2 separate regions of the Homo sapiens genome follow, and region 2 is linked to region 1. A link means that fine-mapping ties the variant in region 1 to the expression of a gene that starts in the linked region. Tissue or cell type: whole blood. Region 1 holds a variant in brackets; the other region holds the start of a gene. All regions are shown on one strand. Distances are from middle to middle.

The links. PIP is the estimated chance that this variant, and not a neighbour inherited with it, causes the effect.
Region 2: NAIP starts here. The variant in region 1 is fine-mapped to the expression of NAIP in whole blood (INTERVAL, PIP above 0.99).

The regions. Positions count from the first base shown.
Region 1 is chr5:70,676,349-70,679,039 of GRCh38, forward strand. The region is part of intron 3 of LOC107986355 (a long non-coding RNA gene); the gene reads right to left. Among named protein-coding and RNA genes, the nearest start is that of SERF1A, 220 kb to the right of the region's middle. The variant T/C (reference allele first, on the strand shown) is at 1,223.
Region 2 is chr5:71,024,158-71,026,848 of GRCh38, forward strand. It overlaps NAIP (NLR family apoptosis inhibitory protein), which reads right to left and starts at 1,182. Exons shown (of 17, transcript NM_004536.3): 1 at 458-1,182; 2 at 161-249. RefSeq lists promoters at 1-1,541, 946-1,310 and cis regulatory regions at 732-945, 1,311-2,691.

The DNA of each region.
Region 1 (2,691 bases):
CCTAATGCTATCCCTGCCCCCTCCTCCCACCCCACGACAGGCTCTGGTGTGTCGTGTTCCCCACCCTGTGTCCAGGTGTTCTCATTGTTCAATTTGCACCTATGAGTGAGGATATGCGGTGTTTGGTTTTCTGTCCTTGCGATAGTTTGCTCAGAATGATGGTTTCCAGCTTCTAGAACTGGAAAAACCATTTGACCCAGCCATCCCATTACTGGATATATACCCAAAGGATTATAAATCATGCTGCTATAAAGACACATGCACACATATGTTTATTGCGGCACTATTCACAATAGCAAAGACTTGGAACCAACCCAAATGTCCATCCATGATAGACTGGATTAAGAAAATGTGGCACATATACACCATGGGAATACTATGCAGACATAAAAATGTATGAGTTCATGTCCGCTGTAGGGACATGGATGAAGCTGGATATGCCAATTATTATTAAAATAATTTTTGGGTTAAGCTGATTTTTACTTTTCTGAAAGAAAGATCCAAACACAATGCCTATAATAAATCTTAGAAATTGTCTGTCTCCATTGGTGAGATTAGTCAGTATAAACACTAACATATATAAATAAAACCAAACAACAGTTACTCTTTTCCATAATGTTATGCTTTTGTGTTCAATGAAATATTTAATTTAATTACTAAATTTCTAGCATTTCTCTGAAGGATAAAACAAATAAGCAAACAAACAAATTAACAAGAAAAACCCAAAATAACTTCAATGAATTAAAACTGTCTGGTGCTACCTTTCCTATAATTATCGTCACCAAATAAAGTGCCTATTGGACAGAGATGGCTGGTTCACTGCAATCTCCATTGACCCTTTCGCCATCAGTAAAAATGTCCTCTAATGCTTAGCCGGACACATGATCACCAGGAATAAATGCTATATTCCCAATCTTTTCTTAACATAGGGCATGACACATGTGACCAATTTCTGACCTATGTTGTGTAAGGGGAAGTAACGCGTGTAACTTCTGAGAAGCTGACTTACATGCAGGGGGCATGTCCTATCTCTGTGCTTTCTTCCTTCTTGGAAAGGCAGCTCTGATGGCTAGATCTGGGGCAGCCATGGGGCAACATGAGAAGCAGCAGTACTTGGAGGTGCAAAGCAACAAGATAATAGCCATCTGGATTTCTGATGATCATGAAGACATCATATCTGAACTGGGGTGTCTGCATATCCCTGAGAGGCAAAAAATGTCTA[T/C]ATTGTTTCCGTGAGTTCTTAGCCTACACTGCACATACGAGTTATCAGAGAACTTTCAAAATTTATCAAATGCCCAGTTCTATTAAGGTATCTGGAAACTTATTCTTGGCCTATAATTTTCCACTGGGTCAACTATAACCCAGGTTTATCTGTCTTCTATATCCAGAGACTGTACCCTGCTCCTATGCAGTCTTGCTCTCTCCATAGCTTCATATGTGCAGCAGAACTCACCCTCTGCCTTCCATAACCAGGAGTGGGGCGCTACCTTCCCTCACCTGACTCCTGTGCTGCAGAAACTTGCTAAGAAACACGGAGCATATGTTTCAGACTCAGAATAAAATTATTTTTACAGTCACCAAGTTTTAGAGGTTCTGATTTAGTGTATCTGGGTGTGTCCAGGGTACCAGTGTGCTCCCTTCTCACTCAAATGAAAATTACTGGAACATGATGTTATTTGGTATTCAGTTACACAAAGCTGAGTGTAACTGATTGGTTAATAGTAAAAGTTTTGATTTCAGTAAAATAGTTGAATTATTCTAAACCATAACTTTGTAGCTACATGATTTGGGTGAGATGATTTTTTTTTTTTTTTTTGAGAAGGACTCTCGCTCTGTCACCCAGACTAGAGGGCAGTGGTGTGATCTTGGCTCACTGCAACCTCCTCCTCATGGGTTCAAGTGATTCTCCTGCCTCAGCCCCCCGAGTAGCTGGGATTACAGGTGTGCACCACCATGCCGGACCGGTTTTGTACTTTAGTAGAGATGAGGTTTCACCATGTTGGCCAGGCTGGTCTCAAACTCCTGATCTCAGGCGATCCACCTGCTTTGGACCCCCAAAGTGCTGGGATTACATGAGTTAGCCACCACACCCTGCCTGAGATGATGTTTTTGAGCCACAGTATTCCCATCAGTAAACCGGACATACTAATTGTAATTTCAGGTATTTTTGTGACACATATATTATTGAAATTATTATTATTAAATTACTGACTTTAATAATACATTCTTAAATTAGTTATTATTATAATAACATAATTAATATTGAAAGCAGTTTATAAACTTGCGTGGTGCTAGGGGGCACTACAATGTAAAGGAATTTATGTAATAAAAGTAAAGATGCAACGTTTGATTTTATTTTTCATGTTTTGTAATGCAAAAATTAACTGTCCTTTTATTTAAATTACAGCACATGCAAATTAACTTTTAGGTATATAATTATTCTGAATTATTTCAGAAAACTATTATGGTCTCATCACTGGATTAAAAAATGTAATAATATTCTCAGTTTAAAGAAAATGCACAGGTTTTAAATCCTCTGTGATAAGGGCCCATGAACTTGGAGCTGCTGATTTTTTTTTTTTTAATTTGCAGGGTTTTTACATAACAAATTATCAGAAACCAAAGCACCCAGATATCAGACTATGAATAGAAAACATCTTTCCTGAACAAGTACAGGCTTTATTACTTAAT
Region 2 (2,691 bases), 350 kb after region 1:
CAGCCACGCTCATAATTTTTAAATGGCTAATTGGTGAAGGCAGAGTTTTCTCATTCACAGAAGCAGAAGGGGGCCCAGTATTTGGTTTGGTTTGATTCTAAAATGGAGGCCAAGAGCCTCGAAATCAAAGGACAGAGTTGAGGTCCGCCCCTTTACTCACCTTTGCAATGAATGCACCTTGGAATCCCAGACGAAGTCCCCAATATGAAGTGGCATTGTTGTCTGGGGTCAATACCCGGGGTTCGTCGTCTCGCACCAACAAGGTTAAGGACACGATACACACGAAGAGTGGGTTTAGGAGCGGAGGTTTAACACGCAAAAGAAAAAGGAGAACAGCTCTCTCCCTTGTGAGAGAGAGCGGCTTCCGAAAGGAAAATCCCAGGTTCGATCGTTTCTTATAATGGCTCACAGAACTCAGAAACTTTACTTATGTTTACTGCTTTATTATAAAGGATACAGATGAACAGGCAGTCGAAGAGGTACACAGGGCAACGTCCAGAAGGGTCCCAGGTGAGCACAGGACCTTTTGTCTTCATGCAGTTTGAGGTGCATCGCCTTCTTGGTATGTGGTTGGGGTTAACCAAACCGAAAGCTCTCCAAACCTGTGGTTTATTTTTTAATGGAGGTGCCATCACTTAGGCATGATTGGTTAAATCACTGGCAACTGGTGGTTAATCAATCTCCAGCCCTTTTACCCTCTCTGGAGGTCGAGGCGTGGGGCTGCAAATCCCAGACCTCTAATCATGCCTTAGTCTTTCAGGGGATAGCCCCCATCCTGAAGTTGTCTAAAGGATCCCAGCCACCAGTTAGCTCACTGTCATACACTCTTATCACTTGGAGATTCCAAAGGTCTTAGAAGCTCTTGTGTCAGGAACCAAGACCAAGTATTCTAATAAAAGATGTTTCTATCACCCCTGTCACTCAGGAAATTACAAGGGTTTCTGGAGATCTGTGCCAGGAACTGGATGAAGATCAAATATATATATTTATTATATCACAATATTGCAGCCTACTACTTGCCAGGCACAATTCTAAGCACTTTACATGTGTCCACTTAATTCCTTTAACAGTCCAAAATCAGCTATTGCTATATCATCTCCATATTACAGATAAGGAAACTCAAGCACATAGGGGTTAAGGTTAACCAGTGATCTGGCTAGTCTGTACTTTTACCTGATGTTGTGCTGCCATACAGACTAGATATATTTTTTTTTTTTTTAGACTGAGTCTTGCTCTGTTGCCAGGCTGGAGTGCAATGGCGTGATCTCAGCTCACTGCAAACCCAGCCTCCTGGGTTCAAGTGATTCTCCTTCCTCAGCCTCCCCAGCAGCTGGGACTACAGGCACATGCCACCTCGCCCAGCTAATTTTTGTATTTTCAGTAGAGACAGGGTTTCACCATGTTGACCAGGATGGTCTCGATCTCTTGACCTCGTGATCCGCCCACTTCGGCCTCACCAAATGCTGGGATTACAGGCGTGAACCACAGCACCCAGCCAAGACTAGATTTTTAAGAAAAGGCAATCCAGATATCCTAGAAGGTTCATTTCCTCTTTTTGGTGGTTTAGCAAATTTCTTAGTAAGGCTTCTAGCTGTTATAGCAGCATTAGTATGTGAACCACAGTTAAGCTCTAGTCCAACAAGGCCATTTCTTCAGCAGAGAAGCAATTGTTAAATAATCGACCAAGTATTCATTGGCTCCCTCTTTTTGTATCAACATACACAATTGTTACAGTGCCAGTGTTTATTGGAACCACTTTCCATGGTGCATCCAGCTGTGCCTAGACCAGCAGGTCTTTTTCCAGAAGTCCAGATGGCAGGGGAACCTCTTCACGTTGTTGACCCTTCTCCCTGTAATTTTTTCCCCAATAAACCTTTTCATTATGTTGCTGTATTTATACCCAAATACACATTACATTTATTTTAGTACCTTGTACATTTTGTTGCCCTTATAAATTGGAGGGGTTTTAAAAACTATTTTTTATTCTCAATATTCATTGATGATGTATAGGACTCCTTCTGGACTGTTTAATATATGACTGTAAATCCCCCTGAATTTTCTTAGATGTTTGTAGTATCTGATTATGACAGTTTTGTCTTTTATTTATTGCCTTGTTGCATTGATTAGGTCCTCTAATATAATGTTGCTTAATAATGAAGATAGATATCCTATCTTATTCTTGACTTTTGGTATAAATTCTTCTAAAGTTTGAGCATTAAACATGATGTTTGATGTAGATTCTTAGTGGATACTCTTTAGCAGTTAAAGTAACTTCTCTTTTACTTCCAGTGACACTACTACCTAATTTGAAGAGAGGATTTGGAATTTTGAGTTTCAAAATAATACTGTTTTCAAACACTTTTTTAGCTAAAAAGTACACACACATAGGGCAGTGTTTTAAAGTTTAGCTACTTCAGGGCATATGTGTATACTCACTGAAGTTTTAATTTAATGGCTTATTGGTCATTCATGTATCTTCTTTGGTAAGGTAATTAAATATTTTTCTTTTTTTTTAAAAGACAGAGTCTCGCTCTGCCGCCCAGGCTGGAGTGCAGTGGCACAATCTCAGCTCACTGCAACCTCCGCCTCCTGGGTTCAAGCGATTCCCCTGCCTCAGCCTCCCGAGTAGCTGGGATTACAGGCGCCCACCACCACGCCCAGCTAATTTTTGTATTTTTAGTAGAGACAGGG